2 separate regions of the Homo sapiens genome follow, and region 2 is linked to region 1. The links come from fine-mapping of genetic effects on gene expression. A gene starts in region 1. The other region holds a variant in brackets. All regions are shown on one strand. Distances are from middle to middle.

Region 1 (15,461 bases):
GGACCAGACAGCAATCCATAAGAGGTAATGAGCCACTCCTGCTGGCCCAACGCTGCTGCCAGCTCAGATGTCTGATGTCCCACCTTCCCCTCCCAGAGGCCAGCAGAAGGAAGCAGGATGTGCTCCCTGGGGACATGCTCAGCATCCCTCCCTCCAATCCCACCATCCTCTCTCCAAAGGCCTGGGAACTCAAGGGACAGGTCGCTTCACGCCTGGGTCCATGTGCAACTTCAAGGATCCCGCTTTACCCATGAGGGCCAGAAACTGGGAAATTAACATTTAAGGGCTACTCTGAGGAAGCCCAATGAGGGAGGAAGACATCTCCATCACCACCTTCATTGCTATTCTCGAGGCAGCCAAGGAAGAGAACAGCTCATCCCTGGTACAGTTTCACCCCAGATGAGCACCAGGCCCTTCAGAGCCACGTGCTCTACAGAGCCAGGTGTGGATGGCACATTCTTCCCAGGCTAGGCCAGGCCTCAGCTCCACTCCCTCCCTTAGTCCTCCAGCTCCCCTGGGGAATAAGAAGAAACATAATTTTATTCCAGGCATCTCTTACCCTTCCTAAACCATGTTTCACTTTAACTCTCTCATCTACGTGGTTGAAATTCATCACCAAGCTGGGAGAAGTTAATAATTGAATTTGGGCTTGGTGGCACACATCTGTGGTTCCAGCTACATGGGAGGCTGAGGCAGGAGGATTCCCTGAGGCCAGAAGTTCGAGACCAGCCTGGGTAACATTCAAGACCCTAACTCTATAAAAAAATGTTAAAAAGCAGCCTGGATGGTGGCATGCACCTATAGTCCCGGATACTCAGGAAGCTGAGGTGGGAGGATAACTTGAACCTGGGAAGTGGAGGCTGTAGTGAGATGTGAACATGCCACTGCACTACAGCCTTGAGTGACAGTGTGAGACCCTGTCTTAAAAAAAAATAAAGTAGGCCGGGCGCAGTGGCTCATGCCTATAATCCCAGCACTTTGGGAAGCCGAGGCAGGCAGATTACCTGAGGTCAGGAGTTCGAGACCAGCCTGGCCAACATGGAGAAACCTCGTCTCTACTAAAAATACAAAATTAGCCAAGTATGGTGCTGCATGCCTGTAATCTCAGCTACTCAGAAGGCTGGGGCTAGAAAATCGCTTGAACCCAGGAGGCGGAGGTTGCAGTGAGCCAAGATCACGCCACTGCACTCCAGCCTGGGCTACAGAGCAAGACCCTGTCAAAAAAAAAAAAAAAAAGAATCAGACCATTTCCACCTGGCTCTTGAATTATATTGAGGTTACCTCTGCAGCACATCTTGCCCAAACCAATAAAACAAAGAAGTTTGGATGATGAGGGAGCTGGGAATGGGCATCAAGACTGAGCCTACTGCTGGCAGCCACCTGAGTGGGTCAGCGCCACAGGACTCCTGCCTTCCCTGAGCTACAATGAGACTGGCTGTGGGGGTGATCCACAGAGCTGCTGACCTGGAGGTGACCATATTTGCTTCTGTTACCACACACGTTCATCCTGACCCCATGCCCACTCACTGTGGCTTCCTGTCCCAGCCGTGGCTTCAGCCAGGACTTGACCCCATCCAGAGTGAGGTTGACCCCAACGAGACCAAGTTTTCCACGACGTTTGATCAGCTGGTCTGGCTTGACTACCAAGTTCTGGAACAAAAGCGGTTTGTATTTAGAGTGAGGAAGAATTAGATAAACCGTAGTATTTTGGGGATCCAAATAGAGGACAGCAGGGATTGACTTCCCATTCACTCTGCTCCAAAGCCAGCCCTAACCATCCTTCAGAGTCAACTCCTGGATGCTTCCTCCACCTACCCTAGCCAATATCTTGCTTTTGACAACCAGGTATCTAGAGGCATTTGTGCCCAGATGGAGCCTGGCACAGAGTAGGCGCTCAGCAAATACCTGCTGAGTGAATAAGTGATTCTCTACCCTCCCTATGTGATACATTAGCTTCTTCATTCAACAGTAAGCCCCTCAGAATATGGACCAGAACATGTGTTCCAAAGAGGAAAACAGAGAGACAGAGCCTTGAGGCAGCAAGGAACCTTAGAGGTCATCTGGTCAACCCCATCCCTGTGCTTGAACCCTGTCTACAACAGGCCCAATAAGCAGCCCCTAACCACTGCTCATACATCTCCAGGGCCAGGAAACTCCCTCCATCCCTTTGTGGTTGAGCTGCCTCCTAGTGGGAAGAAACACCACCACTAGTCCTAGGCTTACTCTCTGAGCCCTGCCAAGGAAATCTAAGAGCTTTCTAACAATGGCCCTGCAAAGATCTCAAGAACAGAGCCCTCTATTCCAGGCTGACCCTCCAGGGTCGGGGCCATTCTTCACAAAGTACAACATCACACTTCCTAATTGCCTTGATACATTCCTGATATACTCCACTTAGGGGAGGAGAGGGCACATCCCTACTTTTTACTGAGCATCTACCATGTGCCAGGCACCAAGCACGCTAAATGCTTCTTGCTAATCTTTACAGCTCAAAGTGAGTATTATCCCATTGGAGAGATGGGGAATCTAAAACTCAAAAGAGGTGAAATGGCTTGCCCCAGGCCACATGGTTAATAAACACAGCTTTGATTTGGACACCAGTTTGTCCAGTTTCAAGCCCATGGCAGGGTATACCATGCTGGGGTACCTCAACATGCAGGGCTCAGCATGAACACAAACCCTGCTCAGCCCATGGCATGCTTCCCACAGCTGCTGCTGGCAGCCTCCAACCCCATGACCCTATCGGCATCACCAACAAACCAATGGCTTTCTCTTCCTCAGACCCCGGGCCTGGAAGAAAGGCCCAAAGTGGAGGCAGGGCTCACCTGGCTGAGCAGCCAGGGGTGGTCCTGCAGCAAGCGGGCCCAGTCTGTGTCAGGAGTGACCCGAGCATACTTGAACCGATTCTGGATGGCTGAGGTGGTACAGATGAACTTGTAAAGGAGTTCTTTGCCCGTCTGCTCTGAAATTGCCTTGGCCGACATGGCTGCAGAGAGACCTGCTCTACCTGTCTGGGAGAGAGAAGCTGGTCAGAAGGGGGCAGGCGTGTGGAGGCACTATCTTCCCCAGCAGGGCAGACCCACTCCCAGTTGCCCCCAGACAATAAAACCAGATCTCAGCTTTTCTCAAGAGGAAGGAAAAAATGCTGTCCCAGCGGGAGGGATGGAAGAGAGATATCAAGCAGCACTTTTGCCAGCAGAGGAAGAAGATCCAGAGATAATGGGTGAGGGAAGATAGAGAAAAACAAAAGTGCCATTTCCCCTGGGACTCTTGCCTTACCCTGCCCCATTCCCTCTAGGCAAACTAGCTGATCCACAACCACACTCATCCTGGAGCAAAAGGCAGCTGGCTAGAAGGCCAAGAAAACCGGTGCTTTGACCCAAATCTGAGTGCTGGTCCCATCTGAGGTGGGCAGACACTGAAACACCTTTCTGTTCTCTGACCAGTGCAGAGTACGGCTGAAATTGCAAAAGGCTAGCCTTTCTCTCCCTACAGGTTTCATCTCCCCCACACCCAGATTTACCCCTATACACACCCTTACACACCACCGGGCCAATGGCCAAGCCAGCAAGTTTACTTAGCCTCAAAAAGGGTCACACCCCCAGGTCCTGGTTAGAAGGGGAGTAGGGGAGGGGGGAGGATCATCGCTAAGCTCTTTTCTCCTCTTTTCTCCTGGACACTAGCCTCCCAATCCTGAGTATGGAGCAGACACAGGGCAGGGAAACCGACCTTTAGCACATTCCACCCGCCCCACTGCGTCATCCAGCTGCTAATTTAGAGCAAAACTCACTAAGAAGAACAGATGCCTCTCTGGGGACCACCCTGTAGTGGTCACTTCTAACTGGGGCGGACTGAGAGGAGGAGGAGGAAGAGGCAGAAACCATCCTCCATCACATGTATAGGAAAACTCATCTTGGAGTTCGAGGCTACAGTGAGCTATGATTGCACCGCTGCACTGTAGCCTGGGTGTCAGAGCAAGACCTTGTGTCTAAAAAAAGATAAAAAGAAACTCATCTCATATGAGCTCTGGGAGGTACACTGAGATTTATAACCCCATTTCTTAGATGAGGAATAAAATCTCAGAGGCGTTAGGATAACTTGCCCAAGAAGCCCACCTAATAATAAGCAAGGTTATGACCCAAGACTCGAACCCAAACCCTCTTACACCTAGGTCCCCAGAAAAATCCACACCAGCCCAAGAAAAGACCATTTTTCCAAGAGCCAGGCCCATGTGTCCTTTTCACTTCAAAGAGTCTATGATAAGAATTTCATCATCTCCCCTCTCCAAGACTCTGTCCTGATACACCCATTCTCCTGTGGGTAACTCAAGGACTGAGCTGGGGAGGGGAATCGGGGGAGGTGGGCATGGAAATTCAGGCCAAGAGCTTGGCCGGATCAGGAAAAGTCACTCCTGACTCCCCCAAAGCCCAGAAGCAAAGCTGTTTAATTTGCTGGGGGAGAAAAAAGTCAAGTACAAATAAAGGAGGGCAGAGTGAAGGAGCCGGCTTGTTTACACGTGCTGGAAGTTGGGTCTCCGTTCCCAACTCAGAGAAGGCCAACATTCCAGGGGCTACATTGCGCCCCCTCCCAATCGGCCAGGCTGGTGGGGCTTCAGGTTCTCATCCTGGCTTGGCTGCCTCTGTCGGCCTCCTAGCTAGTATCCAGCATGGCACAATGGGTGTATTCAGCCTGGTGTCTGCCTAAAGTGGGGTAGCTGGGAAGGGGCTCAGAGATGTTCCCTTTTCTGGCCTTCCCCTGGAATGACTTGAGATTCCTTCTCAGTATGAGTTTCCAGAGACGTCCCAACCACCTCACTGCCCCACGGTCCTCCACCCCCCACCCACTGCTCCATTTCCCAATATTTTTGACTCAGACCAGAAAAACTGGTCCTCAGATTGAATGGGTACAGCCCCCACCCCCTTCCAAAGAGAGTGCAGCCCAGGGCAGATCAAGGAACACTCAGAGAGGAGGGGGCAGTGGCTGACCATCCTCAGCAATTCAGACTCCTTCCATAACTCCAGGGGAAAGGAAGTCCCTGGGCTATGCCTCTCTAGAAGAAAGAAGTCTGAGACTCCCAGTAAAACAGTCCCCTGAACCTGGCACCTCCAAAACAGACACAAGACCCAACTTTGGAAAGGACAAGGGAGAAAAAATGGACCCCTGCAGCTGAGAAATCACAGTTTTCTTGAGACCCAGATCAAATTTCAGGTCCAAGAGCCCATCTCCATAGGGTCTTTGGAAGGGGGATAGGAGAGAAGACACAATGGGATAATACAGGATAGAAAACAAGAGATTTGCCACTAGAGCATTCTGGCTTAGAGACGGGAGGTTGAGACAAGGAATGTATACAACATAATAAAAATAAGGCCTCTGCAAATTCACCAATAAAGAGAAGGCAAATGGCTCACAAACCCAGGGAGTGGACTCAGTAGAGATAAATCGCAACTTTAGTGGTTCAGTGAGGTCTTCTGTTTTTTTGTTTTGTTTTGTTTTTTTTTTTTTGAGAAGGACTCTGGCTCTGTCGCCCAGGCTGGCGTGCAGTGGAGTGATCTCGGCTCACTGCAACCTCAGCCTCCCAGGTTCAAGTGATTCTCCTGCCGCAGCCTCCTGAGTAGCTGGGATTACAGATGCACGCCACCACGCCCATCTAATTTTTTTTGTATTTTTAGTAGAGGCGGGGTTTCACCATGTTGGTCAGGCTGGTCTCGAACTCCTGACCTCGTGATCCACCCACCTCAGCCTCCCAAAGTGCTGGGATTTACAGGCATGAGCCACCACGCCCGGCCTTCAGTGAGGTCTTAAAGTCTCTCTAAGGCAGTGGCTCTTAACCTCTTTGAGGCCTCAGACTCTTCTGAGACTGAAAAAAACCCCAGAAAAAGGTACACAAATCCAATTGTGCATATTGTTTCAAGGTGCTCACCTGTGACAATGATCCGATGGCCCACAGACTGACCACCAGTTAAGAACATTTGCGGCCAGGCACGGTGGCTTGCGCCTGTAATCCCAGCACTTCGGGAGGCCAAGGAGGGCAAATCACGAGGTCAGGAGTTTGAGACCAGCCTGGCCAATATGGTGAAACCCTGTTTCTACTAAAAATACAAAAATTAGCCGGGCGTGGTGGTGCACACCTGTAGCTACTGGGGAGGCTGAGGCAGGAGAATCGCTAGAACCCAGGAGGCGGAGGTTGCAGTGAACCGAGATCCACCACTGCACTCCAGCCTGCCGACAGAGCAAGACTCTGTCTCAAAAAAAAAAAAAAAAAAAAAAGAATATTTGCTCTAGTGGAATCAGCAAATACCTACAAATACCTATCTGGGTTTGGGACCGCTCCCCAGAACGTCTTAGTCTGCCTCCCCAGTAGCTGAATGTGCTGTCAAACAAGTAACAGATGATTGGGCTGAGCTTGGACTCCAGGAACTGTTACTTGGTAACAGCTAAATGTGTAAACCATTTGGGGGAAATCATGCCAAGGAACCTGAAAACACACACATACACACATTCTCTAAGGGAGGGGCCTTATGAGCTGAATGGAGTCTTTCTGCAGACGGGTGAGTGACCCAGGATTGAGTTCACTTTTAGCAGACACTGAGAGAAGCAGCCCACACAGGAGGCTGAATGAAAGAAGCCTGTTCCCCAGAACACGCCCCTGGGACACAGCCAGGGGAAGGGAATCACTGGGGATGCTACTAAGGGTGCCTCTGGGAAAGACAAAAACACTCATTTGAAGGTTAGTATCTGCAGGATTGGGACTTACGTATGTAGGTATTTATTTATTTATTTTTTGAGAAGACAGGCAATCCCTGGAGTAAATTCTAGAGAGGCAGAATTCTGTGAGTGCCCCTTACTGCGGCAGGCATAGTGTCAGAACGGGGATGGAGCCATAAGCTGTCCAGTGTCTGAGGGGTCTTCCCACTACCGCCCCCCAAGCTGTTTAGGAAGGTTTCTAAGAGGTGAAAATCACCCATCTGGGCAAATGAGACCTACCAGCTGTCCCTCACCCCACATTTTAGTTCAGCTGAGCCAGCTGAAAACACAGAGGAAAGTTAAGGGTGGAGAGGAGTAGGCTAGCTGGCCAAACTGTGCTGTGCACTTTTCCTTATCGTCTCTTCCAAAATCCTCTTCCCAGGAAGACCTCCAGGGACCCCATAACGGCAGAACTCGGCACTGCACGGTATCTGCCAAGGTTGGAGACCGCGGCAGGCGCTGGGACTGGCCCATTGCCAGGCTCGACAGGAGGGCGGCGGCAGCATCCTCCAGCCCCTTGAGGACCTTTCCCCGGCCAGACTTGGCGTCAGCTCAAGGGTGGGGTGGCACCCCGGCCATCTGTCACTTAGGGGCTGGACTCGACGATACCTCCAGTGCGAGGAGGGTCCTTGCTGCGAGATTCCAGTCCTCGCGGCGAGACGAGGCGAGGCCTCGGGCACCCTGGGGCAGCCTGGCCCCGCGTGGCCCGCCCCGGAGGCGCGCATAGCTCATTCTCTCCACTTGGGCGTGGAGCTCAATTTTGTACCCACGGAACCAAGAAGGGCCTGAGCCCGGCCAGTGAGGAATCGGAGTGGGACCAGTCGCCACCGCTTTCTCTACTTCCCGTCCCGGCATCCGATGGGGGAACCCGGATGGAGCCAAAAGGCGTCCCGATGAGCCCGAGGAGCCTCGATAGCTGTGCCCGGGAGGGGTGAGGCGCGCCAGGAGGGGGACCATGCAATGTGGCAGAGGCAGAAGAGGCAAGGATGGCGGCAAGCCCCATGCAAACTCCCAGGAACTGGAATATGTGTGTGTCGCGCGGGGGGAGGGGAGGGGCGTCGACACGCGGCCACCGGCCGGGACCCCGGGCGAAGGCTAACCTAAAGCTAAGACCCTCAAAACTTCCGAGCAGGGCGCGTGGGCACCGAGCCCGCGTCGGGGAAGGCGGTTCCGGGTTGGGGGACGGAGGCAGGAAGCTCCTAGGGCGAGCGGGCTCCAGCCAGCGAAAACAGCCTCCCGTGCTCACCTCTGCCGAAGTCCGTGCGCGGCGCTTCTTCCACAGGCCCGACGAACCCCGCAAAATCCGGAGCACCCCAGCAGCCGGTAGCTTCCCGGGATCCGGCTTTTGTCCCGGCCCAGCCGGACTTTTCCCCGCCCCCATCGGCTCGCGGCGAGAACGGCCCCGCGATTGGCCACACGCGTTCCCTAGCCTGAGCGCCAGGGCTCCTCCCAATTCGCTGCTGGCTTGGCTCCGCCCCACGAGGGCGGGCCCCGGGGCCTGCTGGGACTTGTAGTCCCGCTGGCCCATCCACCGCCTCTTGGGAGCCTGCGGGGCCGGGGCGGGGCCCCGGGTGGGGAGATGGGCCGGGCTAGGCTGGGAGGAGAACGCGCGGTGCTGGGGGTTGTGGCCTGATCGCTTGAGGGGCTGGACAGATTGCCACTCGGGGAGTTGGGGGAGGGGCGGGTAGGATTAGCCCAACTGGCTGTAACGCAGCTTTGGGACCTGGAGTACCCTTGCTCCTTCCCTTGGGAGAAACGGACGTCTGCATCTCGGCCGCACCGAATCCGATTGCTTAGACAGTCTCCTTAAGCAGCAGTGTCTGGCAGGCCGCTTTCCTTTAGCACGTGGAGCCTCTCTCCTCCCTGGACTCTCCCCACTGGGCCGATGAGGCAAGGCTGAGCCGAGGCTAACAGAGCATACTTCCCAGTGTGGGATAAGGCAGGGGCCGCGGTAAGCAAGTGGGGCTAGGAGGGTGCAGGCACAGCGCTGTCCGTCCCACTCACCTGCTCGCCTCAGCACGGATCAGGGCGGAGCTAGGAATTCAATGCGAGATTCCAGCGAAGGGCTGGAGCCATCCCAGACAGTCTCTTGTTCCCACCAACCACAGGCTTAGACACTGGAATGAATGAACTGCTGTCTCCCCCTTCTCCATTACCTGAGACAGATCGAATTTTCCAAACCAAAAACTGGGACATCCAATCTGACAGGTGCTGGTGAACTTGTGGGGCAGAATATGTGAAATCAGTCCTGGAAATCAGGACATGTATTTACCACTCTGACATGCTGCAGCCTCCCTCCCTACCTGCACCCCAACCCTGTAGGTCCGGAGCTGCTCCCTAAGCCTAACAGCTGTCTAGCTCCAGGAAGGAGGCCAAAAGCGTCCACTGACCGACTCAGGTGAAGAGGTCAGCCCAGAATGCAGGGAAGCAGCAGGCCTGTCCCCCTGCCAAGCACTTTGGGTCATACTCACACTGCAACAGTGTTGCGACATTTGCAGACAAAATCTTCTCCAAGACCCCCTCCCCCAATCCTGTTGCTGCCAGGAGTAAGGTAACTGAACTTGCTACCCATGCCTGAATCAAGTGTTCCCTGATGATGTCACTTTCTGGTCCCTTCCCTCCCATTCATCTTTTTGAAATAGCAGTTCCTTATCACCTCTCTTCTCTTGTCCTAAAATGGGGGTGGCCAGTCTTGGTGGCTCACACCTGTAATCCCAGCACTTTGGAAGGCCAAGGTGGGGGATCACTTGAGGTCAGGAGTTCAAGACCAACAAGGCAAAACCCCATCTCTACAAAAAATACAAAAATTAGCCAGGCATGGTGGCACACGCCTATAAATCCCAGCTACTCTTGAGGTTGAGGCATGAGAATCGCTTAAACCCGGGAGGTGGAGGTTGCAGTGAGGTGAGATTGCACCACTGCACTCCAACCTGGGTGACAGAGAAGGATTCTATCTCAAAAAAAAAAAAAAAAAAAAAAAGATACACTCCAGGCAAGGCATGCTGTCTCATGCCTGTAATCCCAGAATTTTGGAAGGCCAAGTCAGGCAGATTGCTAGAGCCCAGAAGTTCAAGTACAGCCTGGGTAACATGGTAAGAGCCCCCACCACCACCATCAAATCTCTACAAAAAATAAAAAGACCGGGCGTGGTGATTCACATGCCTGTAATCCCAGCAATTTGGGAGGCCTAGGTGGGTAGATCACCTGAGTTCGAGGTCAAGCGTTCCAGACCAGCCTGGCCAACAGGTGAAACCCTGTTTCTACTAAAAATACAAAAAATTAGCTGGGCGTGGTGGCAGGTGCCTGTAATCCCAGCTACTCAGGAGGCTGAGTCAGGAGAATCGCTTGAACCCAGGAGGCGGAGGCAGGAGAATCGCTTGAACCCAGGAGGCGGAGGCAGGAGAATCGCTTGAACCCAGGAGGCGGAGGTTGCAGTGAGCCGAGATCGCACCAGTGCACTCTAGCGGGGGCAACAAGACCAAAACTCCATCTCAAAGCAAAAAAAAAAAAAAAATTTAGCTGGGCACTGTATCGGGTGCCTGTAATCTCAGCTACCTGGGAGGCTGAGGCAGGAGAATTGCTTGAACCCAGGAGGCAGAGGTTGCAGTGAGCAGAGATCGTGCCATTGCACTCCAGCCTGGGCCACAGAGTGAGACTCCGTCTCAAAACAAAACAAAACAAAACAAAAAAATAAACAAAAATTAGCAGGGCATGGTGGTGCACACCTGTAGTCCCAGCTACTTGGGAGACCGAGGTGGAAGGATCACTTGAGTCCAGGAGATCAAGGCTGCAGTGAGCTGAGATTGTGCACTCCAGCCTGGGCGACAGGGTGTGACCCTGTCTCAGAAAAAAAAAAAAAAAACAAAAAAGAAAAAAAGGAAAAGAAAAGAAAGAAGGAAGGAAGGAAATACTCCTGGGAGGCCAGGTGCATAGGCTCAGGCCTGTAATCCCATCACTTTGAGAGGCCAAGGAGGGCTTGAGCCCAGGAGTTCCAACCCAGCCTTGGCAATACAGTGAGTCTATGTCACTACAAAAAATAAAAAATTAGCTGGGCAGCTGGGCATGCTGGCTCACGCCTATAATCCGAGCACTTTGGTAGGCCAAGGTGGGAAAATCACTTGCGTCCAGGAGTTCAAAACCAGCCTGGGCAACATAGTGAGTCACTGTCTCAAAAAAAAAAAATTAGCTAGGCATGGTGGCACACACCTGTAGTCCAAGCTACTCAGGAGGCAGAGGTGGGAGAATCACTTGAGCCCAGGAGGTCAAAGACGCAGTGAGCTGGGTGGGCACGGTGGCTCGAGCCTGTAATCCCAGCACTTTGGGAGGCTGAGGCAGGCAGATCACTTGAGGCCAGGAGTTCGAGACCAGCCTGGCCAACATGGCAAAACCCATCTCTACTAAAAATACAAAAAATTAGCTGGATGTGGTGGCACATGCCTGTAATCCCAGTTACTCGGGAGGCTGGCTGGGTGCAGTGGCTCACGCCTATAATCCCAACACTTGGGGAGGCCGAGGCGGGCGGATCACAAGGTCAGGAGATTGAGACTATCCTGGCTAACAAAGTGAAACCCAAGCTCTACTAAAAATACAAAAAAAATAGCCGGGCATGGTGGCACGTGCCTGTAGTCCCAGCTACTCAGGAGGCTGAGGCAGGAGAATCGTTTGAACCCAGGAGGCGGAGGTTGCAGTGAGCCGAGATCACGCCACTGCACTCCAGGCTGGGTGACAGAGCGAGACAAAAAAAAAAAAAAAAAAAAAAGATGCAGTCAGCCGTGACTGCACCACTGAACATCAGCCTGGGTGACAGAGTGAGACCCTGTATGAGAAAAAAAAAAAGAAAGACAAATACACTCCTGGGGAAATGGTCATCCAGGCGGGACATAAAATATAATAAACTCTTTGAAGGTCAATTTGGTAATATCAGTAAACATTTTAAATTCACTTGCCCTTTGGTCCAGTAATTCCACTTCTAATAATTTATCCTTCAGATATACTTGCGTATGTGCATGACGAAGATAGGGATCTTTGTCTATTTTCTTCATTGCTGTATTTCTAGCAGTTTAAATAGGGACTGGTTACACAGTAAGTACTCAATAAATGTTTGCTGAATGATTGTCCTCCATTTAGGTGTTGCTAGGCCTAAGTTTGACTATTCCTGGGCAGGAACAACAAAAAATAACTGTCCAGAGAGTGAGGGGGAAGAGGTGCTGGCCAGAGGGCCCATGAGCCAGCCACTGAGGTTTTCCAGTTCACTCAGTGGTCTCATACCAAGTTTCTGCCCCCAACGCCCAGCCTCCTCAAGTAAGACTCTCTCATTACCCCACCATGCACCCACAGAGGTTCATCTGCCTTGAATTAATCAATCTAGAACCCATCTTCTCATCATTCTATTTTCTAACTTAAAAGCTCTAAACCAGGCTGGGTGCAGTGGCTCACGCCTGTAATCCCAACACTTTGGGAGGCCAAGGCGGGTGGACTGCCTGAGCTCAGGAGTTCAAAACCAGTCTGGCTAACATGGCAAAACCCCCATCTCTACAAAAAATAAAAAATAAAATAAAAGCTCTAAACTCTTTTGATTTTCCCATTTGAATCACCTCCCTCCTCTTCTAGACTGGACTAGAGGACAGGTCCCTATCAGAATACAGAGGGTTATAGGCACCATCTCCAAGCCCAGGTTTGGGCATTCCACCTGGGTTCCAGAAGCCTAAAACTGGCTAAGGACTTCCTCCTAGATTTGGACCAATTTTAGTTAATATTTATTGAGCACCTACTATGTGAAAGGCATACTACTCACAGCAGCCACTTGAGCTAACTAAGTGTTTTCATCATTTTGCCTATGATCAACTAACCTAATGATCTTCAGACTCCAAGTCCTTGGGCCTGTACCCTGCAACCTGCTGCAGGTGAGTAAGAGGGAAAGATCCTATCCAGTGGATCTCCTTTATCTGACTGTAAGCAACCCAAGGCCTAGGAGAGTGCCTTGTTCATTTTGGCATCTCCAGTGCCTAGCATGGGACTGGACACATATTAAGCATTCACTGTAAACATGACTAAAAAAAGGCTCTTATAATATGTGAATGAAAGAAAGCAATTGTAGGGGAAGGGCAGGGAGAGGAGGGAGGAGATGCAGCCTGGAGAAGGGTCTACCTAAGTGTCCAGTTCTACTATTTTTTTGTTTGTTTGTTTGTTTGTTTTGAGAGGGAGTCTCACCCTGTCACCCAGGCTGGAGTGCAATGGTGTGATCTGGGCTCACTTCAACCTCCACCTCCCAGGTTCAAACGATTCTCCTGCCTCAGCCTCCTGAGTAGCTGGGATTACAGGTGCCCGCCACCATGCCCAGCTAATTTTTCTATTTTGAGTAGAAATGAGGTTTCGCCATGTTGGCCAGGCTGGTCTTTAACTCCAGACCTCATGATCCGCCTGCCTCGGCATCCCAATGTGCTGGGATTACAGGTGTGAGCCACCACGCCCGGCCCAGTTCTACTATTTTTTTCTTTTTATTTATTTATTTTTTATTTATTTATTTTTTGAGACTGAGTCTCGCTCTGTCACCCAAGCTAGAGTGCAGTGGCGTGATCTCGGCTCACTGCAACCTCCGCCTCCTGGGTTCAAGTGATTCTCCTGTCTCGCCCTCCCAAGTAGCTGAGACTACAGGCACGTGCCACCACACCCGGCTGATTTTTTTTTTTATTTTTAGTAGAGATGGGGTTTCACCATGTTAGCCAGGATGGTCTCAATCTCCTGACCTCGTGATCCGCCCGCCTCAGCCTCCCAAAGTGCTAGGATTACATGCGTGAGCCACCGTGCCCGGCTACTATTTTTTTCAAATGCATTTTCTGTTTATGTAGAGTATCCAGTTCTAAACCCACCTCTCTCCTTGTAACAGCCCAAGACAGGAGCTTCCAGCAAAGCCCCATCATCATCCACCCTGTGAAGAGCCAAGGATTCTAACTTCCGCACCACTCACTTTTGCCCAGTACTGACAAACCTTCCATCAGAGCTAAGGGCCTGTGTGTCCTGGGGAAGGCTCTCCAGGGAGATGCAGCCAGGGCCCCTCTCTCTAACCCGACAGAGGCTGCCTGCCACCAGGGAAGCTGGAGGGATGGCTAGTTCCACTCCTGGGCAGCAGTTATCTCTCTGGGGATGCAGCATCTGTGCTCAGGGAATAAAGTTTCTCCATGCAGCCCAACCAGGTCCAGGCTGGCCCCTTCCCAGAGTCACCCCCACTCCATTCTGACTCTCTCTCAAAAACTGCCACTGCCTCCTCCCCACCAGGTATGTTCCTATAAAATTCCCTCCTCTTTCAGGAAGAACCTGTGCAGCCCCTCCCACACACATAAATCACTTACCCTTGACTTTTACATATGACACGTTTAAACTTATCTCTGAATGAGTTTATTATTATTATTATTATTATTTTGAGATGGAGTTTCACTCTTTTGCCCAGGCTGGAGTGAAGTGGCGCGATCTCCGCTCACTGCAACCTCTGCCTTCTGGGTTCAAGCGATTCTCCTGCCTCAGCCTCCCAAGAAGCTGGGGTTACAGGCGCCCACCACCACACAGGGTGGTGGAGGTTCAGCGAGCCGAGATCCTGCAACTGCCCTCCACCCTGGGCGACAGAGCGAAACTCTGTCTCAAAATAAATAAATAAATGAAAATAAAAAAATAAAAGGAGTCTTCTGGCCAGGCATGATGGTTCATGCCTGTAATTCCAGCATTTTGGGAAGCCAAGGCAGGAGGATTGCCTGAGCTCAAGAGTTCAAGACCAGCCTGGGCAACATTGCAAAACACCTTCTCTACCAAAAAAAAAAAAAAAAAAACCCAAAAATTAGCAGGGTGTGATGGCATGCACCTGTAGTTCCAGCTACTGGGGAGGCTGAGGTGGGAGGATTGCTTGAGCCCAGGAGGGTGGAGGTTGCAGTGAGCCGAGATTGTGCCACTGCACTCCAGCCTTTATTTAGACACTCTGTCTAAATAAATAATAAATAAATAAAAGTAATCTTCTGACTGTTGTGTTGAGAAGGAAGTGGGGGAGGGGAGGCCAAGGAGACCCACTTAGAAGGATGTTGAAGTAATCCAGGAGAGAGATGATGAGGGCTCACAGTGAAGGCAGTAGTTACCTGGAGAGGGAGCTGTGAGTGGAGAGAGGCCTTTCACAGGACCCCCTGCTAGCAATATGTTTCTTGATTTACCTGTGTGATGACTACATAGGTGTACTTTTTTTTTTTTGAGAGAGAGTCTTGCTCTGTCGCCCAGGCTGGAGTGCAGTGGTGTGATCATGGCTCACTGCAACCTCTGCCTCTCGGGTTCAAGTGATTCTCCTGCCTCGGCCTCTGGTACAGCTGGGATTACAGGTGTGTGCCACCACACCAGGCTAATTTTTGTATTTTTGGTAGAGATGGGGCTTCACCATGTTGGCCAGCCTGGTCTTGAACTCCCGACTCGAGGTGATCTGCCTGCCTTGGCCTCCGAAAGTGCTGGGATTACAGGAGTGAGCCACCACGCCCGGCCAGACATGTATGTTTATTTACTTATGTTCTATTTCACAATAAAAGAAGAAATAAAGCAATAACATGAGGAACATAGCTATAAATGGCTGGGACACACTGGAATCCAATTCTAGCACTCTTTATCCTGCTAATCGAACCCAAGGAATAGGCCCCAACCCAGCTCACTTATATCCTTGTGCTGTAGCCTGGAGCAAACCTTGTCATTTCTCT
Region 2 (15,461 bases), 110 kb after region 1:
AGTTGGCCTCCTGGGAGTGTAGTTTTCTGTTTTAAATCCCCCACCCCTGGCTGGGCTCAGTGGCTCACCCCTGTAATCCCAGCACTTTGGGAGGCCAAGGCGGGTCGATTACTTGAGGTCAGGAGTTCACGACCAGCCTGGCCAACATTGTGAAACCCCATCTCTGCCAAAAATACAAAAGTTAGCCGGGCGTAGTGGCACATGCCTGTAATCCCAGCTACCCGGGGAGGCTGAGGCAGGAGAATTGCTTGAACTCAGAAGGCGGAGGCTGCAGTGAGCCGAGATCGTGCCACTGCACTCCAGCCTGGTCAACAGAGCAAGACTCCATCTCGAAGAAAAAAAAAAAAAATTCCCCACCCCTACCAATTGTTTTACTTCCTCTTCCTGCTCAGGGAGCAGATGGGCCTCACTGGTTGAGATGGAATAGAATAACTGGGCTATGAGTCACCAGCCCACTTTGTGACCCAGCAAGACCTTTCCCCTCTCTGGGCATCAGTTTCTCATCTGTAAGATGACCAGAGTTGCTTAGATGATCTCCTAGATCCTTTCCAGTTCTCTTGATTTCGTAAAGCCAATGGCTTCTCCCTCTTTAAGGTGCTATGCCAACCAGCCCTGGAGGCTGGGATCTGCCGCTCCCTCCAGCCACCAGGGGGCAGGAGTGCACTACCTGCTGTCAGTCACCAGAGTGGCCGCTCAGTGCCCAGCCCGCCAGCCTCGCTCTTGGAGGCTGCTCTTTATCCTGCCTGTGGTTTTCAGCTCAGAGCTGGACTTCTATTTATAAGTTACCTGTATTTATATTTATATGCCCGCTCTCATGGTGAAGGCTGGACAAGGTGCTCCTCTGGCCCCTCCTTCTTACCTCAGATGCCTGAACAGAACAAGGCAAACCCGTAGCAGCCTCTCAGGAGCTGACAGGTCCTCTTTCGGGGCTCAGGAGGGTGGGCACACACCCAGCGGCCTGCAGAGTAAGCTTATTACCCACAACTGTGCCCGCTTTGTGCTTCTAAGGTGCACACCTAGCCTAGGTGAGACACTGCAGCCAGGCAACCACCGACACACGCCCCTTCTCAAAGCCAGAGGTGAGTGGGGCAGGTGCCCGGGGCTGGGTGAGTGGAATTAGGACACACACAGGCTTGGGCTTCAAGTTCATTTATTGATGCATTGGTTGGACACAATAAAACCACAATTGTTATCAAAAAGTTTCCCTCCCCTCCCCCTTTTTCTGGTTCTCCCATTGGAAATGTCTTTAAAAAACAAAAAAAAGATACAGGGGGATACTGGCAGGGTCCCATATTGTGGGGTGGGGAGGGGGCAGTGCTGCAGTGGAAAGGAGTTTGTGACATTGACATTGACAGCATGAAAATGGGTCTTGCCAGTGCATGTGAGACTGCCTCCCAACACTCAGCTTCACAGTGGCAGGGGCTGGTTGGGAGAAGGGAAAGCTGAATTTAGTGCTAGGACCAGTTTGGAGTGGGAAGCTGTAGGGGAAAGCTCTTCCTTTGGGAGCTCTGCGGGGGGTTCGGTGTTAGCTGAGTCCATAGTCTGAGGGAGACCCACACCCGCCCTCCAAGAGTTGGGGTTCAGGAAGTCAGAGAAAGGCTAAGAAGAAGAGCTTCTGAGGGATGAGTTACTCCCTCAATATTAAGACTGGGCTTATCAGCAAGTATCACTTGAACCAGGGAGGCAGAGGCTGCATGCAGTGAGCCAAGATTGCACCACTGCACTCTAACCTGGGCAACAGAATGATACTCTCAGACAGAAAAAAAGACTGGGCCCATGAATGCCCAGAAGACTTAAGATTAAAACAAAACCCTGGGCCCAACCAGAACATCACCTCCTCTCTTAGTCCCACCCCTTCAGAGCAGATGAAGCCCCCAAAAGCTTTCAGAACCAGCCCCACTACCTCCTTGGCTCTGCCCCACCTTAGCACTGCTGATCGAAGGACTTTTGGGTCCCCCTTTCTCCTCCATGGTCCTCTGTCACACTCCCATGGTCACCTTGTCCTGACAGCCTTGAGCCTGCTGCAGCTAGAGACCCCATCCCTATCTCCAGTGAAGCCCCAAAGCCTAGGAATAGAGGTCAGAGAGTCGTCCCCTGGCTAGGAGAGGATGGCTTGTAGAAGCTAAGATTCCTAGAGTCTGGCCATGTGGGTCTTGGGTGGAGGAAAGTGAGAGCACCACATGGCTGGGGCTGAGATTTTGCATAGATCTTTGGGGTCTGTCAGGGTGGGAAATGCAGGCAAGCCTAGGATTAACCCTGGAAGGCCTGCGAAAGGAGGGTGGGGACAGTCCTTGGAAGGCAGCTGCCCTTAAAACTAGCCCAGCTCTTTCTGGATCGGGCAGGACCCCTGAAGCTGTTCACAGTCCCTGTGGCATGTAGGAAACCAAGGTGTCTCAGGACAGGAGGAGACAAGGAGTGGCTATTGGGAAATCAGCTCTGGCCTCCCCATGAGGGCTAATAAGGGGCAAGGACGATAGGTCCTGTGGCAGGGCGGACAGCTCCTGCTGGGGTGCGAAACAGAGCTGGGCCCAGGATGGGAGCCGGGAAGAGGGTAGTGGCTGCTGTAGGGGCAGGGCGGAGGGCCAGGGGCCCTGGCAGAGCACAGATGGCAGTGGCTGCGGTGGGGAGCGGGCTGGGCAGGAAGCGGGCTGCCAACGTCTTGGTGAGTTGCTTCTGCAAGGCCAGTTTAGACTACACGGAAAAGAAAGGAATGGACACAGTCTCCACCCCAGAAAACCCCACCCCCTCCCTGGGGCCCATCCTCAAGCTTTTTGCTGCAGGGAAAGCGTGCCTTTTAGAGTTCCAAACCTAAATCCTCCTCCCTTCCCACCCCCAAACATTCATTCCGAAGGGCTTTCTCCACCACCTGTCTTCCTGTCCAGAGGGAGGAAAGTCTCAGCATGGGAGAAGGGAGGAGGATTTACGGGATAGAGATGGTCTCTAGGAGATGCACGCCCACCCCTCACTCTTGCCCCTAAGATGACTATCCCAACCCACCTCCCCGGAAATTCCTCTGCGCAGATCCCAGTTCCCAGGCCTAGCTCTGTCACTGCCCAGCAGCCTCATTGCAGGGTGGCCTCTTTTCCTGCCCCACCGCAGCCCCCCCATCTGGCCCTCCCAGCCCACCCTCTCCCCTCCTGACCCAGTCCCAGCTCTGTTGCCTGGAGACAGATACCTTGAGGATACTCACAGCCAGCGCTGCGTGCTTCTGCAGCTTGCTGTGCTGGCTGGAGGGCTTGGGGGTCTTCCCGGCCAGGCGGTCTTTGTGCCTCCTGCTGCTCATGTGCTAATGGACAGACAGACAGACTGGGAACAAGATGACAAAGCCCAAGGACCCCAAGACCATCATCCTCGACTCTTCCCCTTCCTCTATCCACAGCTCATACATCCAAAGCACACAGACTGGGTCCTCACCCTGGGGTAGGCCCTGGGAAGGGGAGGTGAGTCTTGGCCTTTGCCCTTAATTGGCCCACTGGCCTGCTGGCCTCGCTTCTCCAGCCTGCTCTGCTGTGCCCTGCCTGCTCTCTTCAGGGTCCCTCCCTCTGCTGCCCTGCCCCCCAACCCCCTCCCCTGGCTCCAACCCCAGTCACAGCCTCACTTCTCCCACCTGCTTCAGTTGGGTCTCTGAATTGACCTGGAGCTGACAGAGAGCACAGTGGAAGGCAGGGCTGGGCCCCTGCCGGCCGCCCCGGCCCCCTGTGACTCTCTTGGCTTTGTGTCCGGCACCTCCCCTGGACACCGGGCGGCCCCGGCTCCTCCGGGGAGCCCCTCGCTGACCTTCCATCATCCACCGGTGCTTGGCTCCTGGAGAGGGAAGAAGGCAGTCTCTCAGCAGCAGGAAGGGGTTGCAGGGGCCACAGAGACCCCCTCCACACTCATGCAATTTGGCTCTCCCTGTAAGCCTCACGGCTGCTCTGTGCACACATCGCCCTCCAGCCACACGTGGTTTCCCCTCCCAGCTTCTGTCCTTTCATGCCAGCCCCTCCTATGAAAGGCCTTTCTGCACTACAAATAGCTGCCTTCCCCTTTGCTTTGATCTCAGTCCTTTCCTTCTGGGTGTAATCTAAGGAGAGAGGCAGATGTCTCCTGTCTCCTGTGGAGTGACCCTTCAGAGATTTAGCGACCTTCAGTTCTTGCTGCCTCAGACTTCTCTTCCCAATTCTCCTTCCCCAAGGAGTAATGGGAGGACCCAGAAACGTCCGTTCAGTAACACACAAGCACAAAGCCTCCGCCATCCAACCCTTGAGCGAAGCACCCAGGAACTCAAGCCTGCCCTCATCTGGCGAGGCTTAGCTTCTGTCCCACCCTTTCCCTGGGCTCCAGCTCCTGGGACTACTGACCTGTGTTGTGAGCCTGAAGCTGGGAGGCCGAGTTCACTGTCACCTTACACGTGGGGCAGTAGAGGTGCCCCTTCTCACTCCTGCCTTCCCCACTCATGCTGCTTCCCAC[G/A]GCAGCTGCCGCTGGCTCAGGCCCCGGTGCCTCTCTCCCAGGCTCTGGGGAGCAAGGTGGGCAGGAGGAAGAAGAGGATGAGGAGGCAGCATCCAAGAGCTCTGAGTGGGCTGGCTCCCTGCATGTAGGGTCTGGAGTTGGTGGTGGCTGGAGTGGAGGCCCAAGAGGAGGGGCTGCAGGAACTGCTGCAGAGATGGAAGAGTGTGAGACCCAAGATGACGCTGCAGACCACGATCTTCAGCTCTGACCATGGAGGTGGCCTGGAGGGCCCCTGGTGGATGACCAGCACTGAATTCCAGGCCCCACTTTTCTACCAACTCACTGGGCAGACTTGGGCCTCAGTTTCCCCATCTGAAATCATTAAGTTGGACACAGTGGTCTCAGAAAGCCCTCACAGCCCTCATATCCTTATTTGCTAACTTAAACAGAGATCACCAAAAAAGATGTACTAGAATGTTCAGAGAACACTATTCATAATATCATAAAACTGAAACTACCCACATGTCCACCAACAGGAGAGCAGATTTTTAAAAAACAATGGTGCGGGCTGGATACGGTGGCTCATGTCTGTAATCCGAGCACTTTGGGAGGCCGAGGCAGGTGGATCACCTAAGGTCAGGAGTTCGAGACTGGCCTGGCCAACATGGTGAAACCCTATCTCTACTAAAAATACAGAATTAGGCGTGGTGGCACATGCCTATAATCCCAGCTACTCGGGAGGCTGAGGCAGGAGAATCGCTTGAACCTGCAAGGTGGAGGTTACAGTGAACTGAGATCACACCACTGCACTCCAGCCTGGGCGACAGAGTGAAACGCCATCTCAAAAACAAACAAACAAACAAAAAAAACACAGTGGTATGGGCCAGACGCAGTGGCTCACGCCTGTGATCCCAACACTTTGGGAGGCCAAGGTTAGCAGATCACTTGAGTCCAGGACTTCGAGACCAGACTGGGTGACACAGCGAAACACCATCTGTACTAAAAATACAAAAATTAGCCAGGCATGGTGGCACATGCCTATAGTTCCAACTACTTGGGAGGCTGAGGCAGGAGAATCGCTTGAGAGCCAGGGAGGTGGATGAGCCTAGGTCACACCACTGCACTCCAGCCTGGGTGACAGAGCCAGACCCTGTCTCAAAAAAAAAAAGAGCTTTTAAGAATTTAAATTAAAAAAAAATAGTGGTATGATCCACGGTGGAGTACTACACAGCAATGAAAGAGAACAAACTACAGCTACACGCAAAAACATGGATGAATCTTACAGATATAATGAATGTTGATGAATGTTTGTGAGAGATGAATAAAAACTAGATACCGGCCAGGCAGGGTGGCTCACGCCTGTAATCCCAGCACTTTGGGAGGCCGAGGTGGGTGGATCACAAGGTCAGGAGTTCGAGACCAGCCTGGCCAATATGGTGAAACCCCGTTTCTACTAAAAATACAAAAATTAGCTGGACGTGGTGGCAGGTACCTGTAGTCCCAGCTACTTGGAAGGCTGAGGTAGGAGAATGGCTTGAACCCAGGAAGCAGAGGTTGCAGTGAGCCAAGATTGCACCGCTGTGCTCCAGCCTGGGAGACAGAGCGAGACTCTGTCTCAAAAAACAAACAAACAAAACAAAAAAAACCCACAAAACAAAACAGATACAAAAAAACCCCTGCACACTCTATGTTTCACCAAAAATAGGTAAAGCTGATCTATGCTGAGAAAAGTCAGGATCGTATTTACCATCAGAGGGGTTGTAGTTAGTTGAATAGTGTCTCCCCCAAAATTCACATCTATCTGGAACCTCAGAATGTGACCTTATTTGGAAACAGGGTCTTTGAAGATAAAATTAGTTAAGATGAGGTCATGCTGGGTTCGGGTGGGATTGATCTAGTGACTGGTACCCTTATAAAAAGAGCTTGTGGAAACACAGGGACACACAAGGGAGAATGTGGAGATGGAGGTGGAGATTGGAGTGATGCGTCTATAAGCCAAGGAGTGCCAAGGAATACTGGCAGCCACCAAAGGCCAGAAGAGAAGCATGGGACACTTTCTCCTCTAAGCCCCCAAGAAGGAACCAATGCTGTCAACGCCTTGATTTCAGACTTCTGGCCTCCAGAGCTGTGTGAAAATAAATTTTTGTTGTTTTCAGTCACCCAGGTTGTAGTCTCTTTTTTTGGGGGTGGGGGTGGGCAGGGGAGGTTAGAGACAAGGTTTTGCTCTGTCACCCATAGCTCACTGCAGCCTCGACCTCCTGGGCTTAAGCAGATCCTCCTGCTTCAGCCTCCTGAGTAGCTGGGACTACAGGTGTGCATCATCATGCCTGGCAAATAAATTTTTTGTAGAGACAGGGTCACACCATGTTTCCCAGACTGGTCTCAAACTCCAGGCTTAAAGCAATCCTCCCGCCTCAGCCTCCCAAAGTGTTAACCATCACAACATGTGAGCCACCATTCCTAACTTCACAAATGAAGTCATTTGTGAAGGCAGCCCTTGGAAATGAATACTTCAAGGTAATGACCAGGAGGAGGTGCAAGACAAGCTTCTGAGGTGCTGGTAACGTGTTTCCTGATCTGGGTGTGTTCAGCTTAGGAAAATTCATGGCGTGGTACACTTGTGTGCCTTTGCCTGTCTGTATGGAATACTCCAACACAAGCAAAAAGAATAAGCAGAAATCTCTCAACCCCTTGTCGGAAACCAGATTTGGAGTGGAGACGTGGGAAAGAGAAGAGCTCAGGACTGACCTTTACTCTGTGGCTCTCCAGGGGCTCCACTGGCCAGCGTTGGGATTGGGGACACTACAGCCCCATCCTGGGCCTGGGTGTGTGGCCTCTGCTTGCTCTTGGCAGCCTCGACAGCCTTGAGTTTTCTGGCGTGTTTGTGGCCTTTATAATGTGCCTCGGCCTGGTTCTGGGGAGGGGAGGGCAAGAGGTCACCATTCACTGGCTGAGTCCACATGCCCCATCTGTGAACTGGAGCCCAGCAGGGGGACAGGTCAAAGGGAGGCAGGGCTCAGGTCACACAAAGGGCAAGTCCTTGTCCTTGTCATCATCATCACCATAGCACATGTGGCTCTGAGGTTTGCAGAATGTGTTCTCGCACATGAACTCCAAGGCAGGCTGCCTCTGGCTTCAGATCTGACCCAGCCACTTACTAACCACATCTTTTTGTTGTTGTTGTTGTTGTTTTTGTTTTTTGTTTTTTGAGATGGAGTCTCGCTCTGTCGCCCAGGCTGGAGTGCAGTGGCGCCATCTCAGCTCACTGCAACCTCCGCCTCCCGGGTTCAAGCGATTCTTCTGCCTCAGCCTCCGGGGTAGCTGGGACTACAGGCGCCCGCCACCACACCCGGCTAATTTTTTGTATTTTTAGTAGAGACGGGGTTTCACCATATTAGCCAGGATGGTCTCGATCTCCTGCCTCGTGATCCACCCGCCTCAGCCTCCCAAAGTGCTGGGATTACAGGCGTGAGCCACCACGCCTGGCCACTAACTACATCTTTAGGCAAGTAACATCTCTCTGAGCCTGAGTCTCCTCACCCATAAACCCTGTGATGATAATACTGACCTCATGGGGTTGTCAGAATTACATGGGAACATGAATTACAAGGGCCGAGTACATAGAGTAGGTGCTCAATGAATGTTAGTTATCAAGTGTATCAATGCACAAATGGAGAAAGCAGAGCAATCCCCACACTTTGGGGTGTATGTACCCCAGAACATTCATCCCTTTGTTCATTTGTTCAACAAGTCATTACTGAGCATTTGCTATTTGCCAGGCACTGTGCCCGGGGTCCGGCAGGAAGAAGAATGGTTCCTCCCTCAGAACGAATTCTCTCCTCCATCTTTTTTTTTTTTTGAGACGGAATCTCGCTTTGTCACCCAGGCTGGAGTGCAACGGGAGCAATCTAGGCTCACTGTAACCTCTGCCTCCTGGGTTCAAGCGATTCTCCTGCCTCAGCCTCCCGAGTAGCTGGGATTACAGGCACCTGTCACCACAACTGGCTGCTTTTTTTTTTTTCTTCTGTATTTTAGTAGAGATGGGGTTTCACCATGTTGGCCAGGCTGGTCTCTAACTCCTGACCTCAAGTGATCCACCCACCTTGGCCTCCCAAAGTGCTGGGATTACAGGCATGAGCCACCACGCCCAGCCTCTCCTCCATCTCTTGCAGGACTCATGGAACCAGAAGGCCTGAAGGGAATCCTCAAATCTGGTCTGTCAGTGTCCTCCCTCCAAGGGTCCTCACTTGCTGCTCCCCGGCCCACCTCCTTGAAACATGGGAAAGACAGGCCCCCATGGCCCCTCCCTGGATGCTATACCACAGCAGTTCTGCTGGCATCCAACCGAAACCCCAGATTGCCTAACAGGAGGTAGACCTTCCCTGGGAGGCCAGAATGAGGTTCCTCCTCTACCTAGTGGTAAGATGTAGTAGAAAGGGGTAGGCTGTAGTAGAAAGTCATAGACCTTGGGGTCAGCCAGGCCTGGATTCATATCCCAGCTTTGCTACTTACCAGCTGTGTGGTCTTAGGCAAGTCACTTAACCTCTCTAAGGCTCACTTTCCTCATCTGAAAATCGGGGATTATAATAGCGCCTCTAGGCCAGGCGCGGTGGCTCACACCTGTAATCCCAGCATGTTGGGAGGTTGAGGTGGGTGGATCACTTGAGCCCAGGAGTTCGAGACCAGCTTGGGCAACATGGTGAAACCCTGTATCTGCCAAAAATATAAAAAAATTAGCCAGGCGTGGTAGCACATGCCTGTAATCCCAGCTACTAGGGAAGCTGAGGCACAAGAATCACTTGAACCCTGGAGGTGGAGGCTGCAGTGAGCCAAGATTGCGCCACTGCACTCCCGCCTGGGTGACAGAGTGAGACCTTGTCTAAAAAAACAAAACAAAACAAAAAAATCCCGCCTCCACCCGTCTCACAGATGTATCATGAAAACTATTATTTAAGGGGATGGGCATGATCACATTCTGTAAACTCTCAGGTGCCTTAAGAGCTCAGCTCCAGACCAGGAGCTGATGAGATGGGCCACTGGGACCTGGAGTGGAGGAAGGGCAGTCTTCTCTCTTGCAGAAGGATCCAGAACACAGGAGAGAGGCCTGGGGGGAAGGAAATGGAATCCCACTGGGCTACAGCTGGGCAGAAGGGGAAGGGGCAGAAGAATCTAGAGAGAGGAGAGGATGCGATGGTTAAAGGACCAAGAGTGCCTCTTCTGCAGCCAGGGTGGAAAATACCGACCACAGCCCCTTTGCCACTGATATTCCTCCCAGAAGGACTCTGAAAGCCCAGCCTCCAGCCCTCTCCCTGCCCAGCCCCCTCCCCAGACCTGCTTTCACTACTTTGTCTCACCGCTGAGTTGAACCTCAGGTGACAGATGTTACAGGAAATGAACAGCTTCTTCTTCAGAGGGGAGGGGACACCAAACGTGTGGCTGATGACAGCTTTCTGGACCGGGTCCATCTGTGAAGGGAGTGGGAGGGCATAATAACTCTGGGGTTGGCTTGGGAAGCAGGGGTCGGGGGCAGCACAAAATGCCCAAAACTAAAGATGACTGAAGAGGGCCTTGGTCAGCTTCTAGGAAGAACTTTTCCATCCTGTGGATGTTGGAAAGAGAAACAGCTGGGCCAGGCGCGGTGGCTCACACCTGTAATCCCAGCACTTTGGGAGGCCGAGGCAGGCAGATCACCTCAGGTTGGGAGTTCAAGACCAGCCTGACCAACATGGAGAAACCCCATCTCTACTAAAAAAAAAATACAAAATTAGCCAGGTGTGATGGCGCATGCCTGTAATCTCAGCTACTCGGGAGGCTGAGGCAGGAGAATTGCTTGAACCAGGGAGATGGAGGTTGCGGTGAACCGAGAGCAGGCCATTACACTCCAGCCTGGGCAACAAGAGCGAAACTTCGTCTCAAAAAAAAAAAAAAGAAAAGAAAAAGAAAAAGAAAAGGAAAGAAAGAAGAAGAAACAGCTGCCTGGGTGCAGTGGCTCACGCCTGTAATCCCATCACTTTGGGAGGCCAAGATGGGTGAATCACCTGAGGTCAGGAGTTCAAGACCAGCCTGGCCAAGAGAAACTCCTTCTCTACTAAAAATACAAAAATTAGCCAGGTGTGGTGGCACGTGCCTGTAGTCTCAGCTACTCAGGAGGCTGAGGCAGGAGGCTTGAACCTCAGAGGCAGAGGTTGCAGTGAGCTGAGATTGCGCCACTGCACTCCAGCCTGGGCAACAGAGTGAGACTCTGTCTCAAAAAAAAAAAAAAAAAAAAAGAGAAGAGAAAAGAAAAGAAAGGAAAAGAAAAGAAAAGAAAAATACACAGCCTCTCCCGGCTGTCTTTATTTGTCAGCCTAGGCTTCTGCTTGGAAGCAGGGGAATGGCCAGAGTGCCCTGCATGTTTCTGGGACATAGAACCATGTCCTGGTGATCACCTTGGCATCTCTTGGTGCCCCTTAGGTCATTATTTTTGTTTTTTGTTTTTCTCCTTTGCAATAATTACAACTATTGGGACAGAGAGTTGGAAACAAGGAGAGGCAGGGAAGAGACAAAGAACTCGTCTGTTGGAATTTCCTCTCCCATCACCCAGGCTTCATGCAGGGACCTGTGGGCTGGGGGAAGATAAGTCCTATCTCATCAGCTCTATCACTGTCACAGGGCCTGAGGCTGCTGACGACCTTTTTTTTTTTTTTTTTTTTTTTTTATAAGATGGAATACTGCTCTGTCGCCCAGGCTGGAGTGCAGTGGCATGATCTCAGCTCACTGCAACTTCCACCTCTCAGGTTCAAGTGATTCTGCTGCCTCAGCCTCCCGAGTAGCTGGGATTACAGGCGCCCACCACTACGTCTGGCTAATTTTTGTTATTTTTAGTAGAGACAGGGTTTCACCATGTTGGCCAGGCTGGTCTCGAACTCCTGCCCTCAAAATGATCCGCCTGCCTTGGCCTCCCAATGTGCTGGAATTACAGGTGTGAGCCACCGTGCCCAGCCATGACGACCTCTCTTGAGAGAGTGAGAGCCACAGCCAGGGGAGGTGGGGGGCCAGTAGGGGGCAGGGAGCAGCAAGTGGAGGCCTAAGGTTCCCCAAGGAGTAGGATCGTTTCTTTGGAATATTAATTTGGATTTTTTTTCTTTTCCTTATTATTTTTTTGAGATGGAGTCTCCCTCTTGTCGCCCAGGCTGGAGTGCAATGGCGGAGCCAAAATCTTGCAACCTCCGCTTCCTGGGCTCAAGCGATTCTCCTGCCTCAGCCTCCCAAGTAGCTGGGACTACAGGTGCCCACTACCATGCTCGGCTAATTTTTGTATTTTTAGTAGAGATGGGGTTTCACCATCTCTGTTGGCCAGGCTAGTCTCAAACTCCTGACCTCAGATGATCAGCCCACCTCAGCCTCCCAAAGTGCTGGGATGACAGGCATGAGCCACTGCACCTAGCTTCTTTTCCTTATTTTAAATCATTTTTTTCTTCTATAGAATTAAGGCTTTATGTTCCCTTTTCTCAGGAAGTTGGGCCAAATGCAGCTGTCTGAACTTGTCAAGAACTTTCCAGGCTGGGCGTGGTGGCTCACACCTGTAATCCCAGCACTTTGGGAGGCCGAGGTGGGAGGATCCCTTGAGCTCCAGAGTTTGAGACCAGCCTGGGTAATATAGTGAGACCTCATCTCTGCTTATATAAAAATAAAATAAAATAAAAAAGGAACTTTCCAAACCTTCCCAAGAAAAGAAAACAGAGCTTAGAGAGAAGAACATGGGTGCAGAAACTTCCCTGAGAACAGAAAGTGGTTCAAATTTTCACAGCACCCAGGGCCAGCAAGGGGCTCAGGGGACAGGACCTCAGAGGAGAATGGCCTGCAGGGGCCCCCTGCAATTGGAACCATGCCATTCAACAGTGAGCCTGTCAGCAAGCGACAGCAAGGACTCAAGACCAGAGGACCACCCCCCAAATGCCTCAGACTCCTTAGGACCTCTGTCTAACTCTGGAGGGTGGGAGGGAAGGGATTCCTAAGTGTGACTGAGGTGGAGTTTGCCACCATCTGCTCAGGATGGGGCATGCCACACCCATGATTTCACTTGAGTTTTCAAAATTTAAAAAAACAGAGATGGTTGCTGATCCCTCATATAGTGAATTAAAATTCATATACTTGTTATGCACACGTGTACAAGGAAATGTACAGACTAGGACACACACACAGCACAGAAGCTTCAGGCAGTTACAAATGCTCAGACAAGCAGAACAATTCACACTCATGCACACAAAGGGCACATGACCACAGGTAAACTCACAATCACCCAAGCCACACAAAAACACGCATGCTCAGAGGGCAGATACACGCCAAACACACAAAAGACACAAGGACACAATAAACCCTCAGATTGTGCAGGCACATACCTTAATTACATAAAATTACCCATGCACAAAGAGTTGTTTACAAACACACGTTGGACACCAACACACAAACTCACATCCACATATAACATACAAAACCTATAGAAACTACAACAAAAAGGCACAGGTTACACACACACACACACACACACACACACACACACACACACACGTCATCCACAGGAGCGCCTACACAGAAGCTTAAGTGGAATGCACAGACTACAGGCCCTTGCAGGCCCAGCAGCTATGATGGTGGGGGTGGGGAAAGGGCTGACACCATCTTGTTCCCCAGCCTAAGAGAGAGCGGGTCCCTCTCTTAGGATCCCAAATAGGGGTCCCTATTTGGGGAGCACCTATCCCCTCTGGGGGATGTTGGAGAAAAAGCTCCTGGTTAGACCCAGCTGCTGAGAGCTGGACCCTCTGAACCCACCTTCTGTGCCCACCCACAAGCTTGTGTGCATGCCCCCACCCGCCAGCCCAGCCCATACCGTGCTGAAGTTGGGGAAGAGACTGAGCGGGGCAGCGCCATTGAAGTGGAAGGCGAGCAAGTGCTTGAAGTCCAGCGGGGGCTGCAGAGGCCGGGTGGGCAGGGGCAGGGAGGCCAGCAGGGGGCTGGGGGCGCCGGAGGCCGGGCCTGCTGCAGGAGGAAGAAGGGCAGGGTCTGAAATGGGCTCTGTCCTACCCCCGTGGCCAGAACAAGAGGCGGGTGGGCTTCTTGGGTGTGGAGCTGGGCAGAAACCTGTGTCTCTCTTCACAGAGTGGCACCAGCCAGACCCATAGTGATTATAGCCCCCTTCTCTGTGCCCTTCCTCCCCACAGCTGGGGAAGCAGAGGCAGGGAGTCCACAGTTGAGGCTCCCAGCCCAGAGGGATGACCCTCCTGCCCCTACTGAGGCAGCATACTGAACCCCAGGGCAGCCCAGCCAAGAGAGGGACAGAGGGGTCTGGGCAGGCCCTGACACACACACCACCATGGAGACTGCATGATGTGCTGGGATTCCATTTTATTGCAAATTAAACTCAAACCCAGGGGTATTAGGAAAAGGCTAGCCCTCGCCCCTCTCACTCTCTAACTATCCTCCCTCCCTCCAGATCCCCAGGATTTCATGGCCAGGGCTGACAGGAGGGAATGGGAAACCCATGGGCTCTGAAGGGATGTGCTCCCCAGCTCTGATGAGGCCTAAACTGCTTCCCCCAGGAGGTAAATAAGCCAACATTCCTGGGTTGGGCCTCGACGCCAGTCCTTGGAGGTGGCAGGTACAGCACTGTGGTTTTGCAGTCTTTGGTCTTAAAGGTCTGAGGCAAGGGCAGGGGAGGGGTAGGAACTTGGAGAGCAACTGGACTTTGAGGAAGAAAATATCAGAAAAAAAAAAAAATCCAGCCCATCTGGGGCTTTTTTCGACCCTGTCATTGCAAAACCAAAAGTAGTCCTTTTAGATGTTTGTGTGGTAACACTATGAAAGATAGCATAGATTTATTTCACATTTGTAGGTTTTTATGTCTATATACACAGTTATACACAGAAAAGGCCTGAGGCTGCCTATTGGTGAGGAGGGAAGGAAGGGAACCACTATCTCTCTGGAACCATTGGCCCTTGAACCACCAGCTTGTGTACAGAGAGGACACTGTGCTGTGTGTCAGAAACAAGCACGGTCATCTACTCCCCAGTCATAGCTGAAGAGAAGAGACACTGCCAGGAGTGGGGCTAAGAAACAGCCAAGGACCAGACGCAGTGGCTCATGCCTGTAATCCCAGCATTTTGGGAGGCCGAGGCAGGTGGATCACTTGAGGTCAGGAGTTCGAGACCAGCCTGGCCAACATGGTGAAACCCTGTCTCTACTAAAAATACATAAGTTAGCCAGGCATGGTGGCAGGCGCCTGTAATCCCAGCTACTCAGGAGGCTGAGGCAGGAGAATTGCTTGAACCCAGGAGGCAGAGGTTGCAGTGAGCCAAGATCACACCACTGCACTCCAGCCTGGGCGACAGAGCAAGACTCCATCTCAAAAAAAGAAAAAAAAAGAAAAGAAAAAGAAAGAAACAGCCAAGGACCAAGGACCAGTGTCCGTTCCCTCAGCCACTCAATTTCCAAGACCTAGTCTTCCTTCCCCAAGCCAAAAACTCCCATCTTTGGGGGGACCCAAACTTGCCCCGAGTCCAGAAGGGAAAAGGGTGAGCTACTCCTCATCTAACTGTGTAAAGGCCAGGAATGATTTAGGGTACCCCAGATCCTAGCATCTCTGCCCACCCGCCCAGGCCCCTCTTGAGCCAGTCCCTTCCTCCACAGCCCACAGGGTGGGGGGGGTTGGTGGGAAGCTCCAGAAGGGCGGGTGGATGGCCTCAGGCCCCTGGGAGGCTGCAGTCAGCAGATCATCTTGGGTGCAGCATGGTCAAGTCTAGGTTGGCCCTTACAGTGCCCAGGGCCCCAGGCTGGATGGGCCGAGGGAAGGAGGCCACCCTCAGGTGAGCTGCGACCCCAGGAAGCCCTCTCCCCACCCACTCTCTAAGAACTCCACAGCCAACCCGAAGTCAAACTCGTGCAGCGGGGGCCCATCCACTGCGATCTTCACCATGTGGCCCCCCCGGCCTTCCCCGGCCCCACTCTGCCCCCACCACCGCAGCTCCCGGCTGCGGCCGACCTTGTCCAGCAGGCCAGCG

What was found. PIP is the estimated chance that this variant, and not a neighbour inherited with it, causes the effect.
Region 2: its variant is fine-mapped to the expression of ACLY in whole blood (TOPMed, PIP above 0.99).

Annotation. Positions count from the first base shown.
Region 1 is chr17:41,910,893-41,926,353 of GRCh38, forward strand. ACLY (ATP citrate lyase) reads right to left here and starts at 8,059. Exons shown (of 29, transcript NM_001096.3): 1 at 7,988-8,059; 2 at 2,823-3,004; 3 at 1,528-1,650. The coding sequence starts at 2,981. RefSeq lists enhancers at 1-352, 1-351 and silencers at 7,462-7,701, 8,182-8,441.
Region 2 is chr17:42,024,443-42,039,903 of GRCh38, forward strand. It overlaps NKIRAS2 (NFKB inhibitor interacting Ras like 2), which reads left to right. Exons shown (of 4, transcript NM_017595.6): 4 at 1-1,199. It overlaps ZNF385C (zinc finger protein 385C), which reads right to left. Exons shown (of 9, transcript NM_001392013.1): 3 at 13,295-13,443; 4 at 9,783-9,893; 5 at 7,177-7,342; 6 at 4,341-4,631; 7 at 3,608-3,804; 8 at 3,176-3,286; 9 at 1,134-2,691. The coding sequence ends at 2,455. It overlaps C17orf113 (chromosome 17 open reading frame 113), which reads right to left. Exons shown (of 3, transcript NM_001358661.2): 3 at 13,790-15,461. The coding sequence ends at 15,263. Among named protein-coding and RNA genes, the nearest start is that of NKIRAS2, 12 kb to the left of the region's middle. RefSeq lists enhancers at 495-544, 4,315-5,103. The variant G/A (reference allele first, on the strand shown) is at 4,450.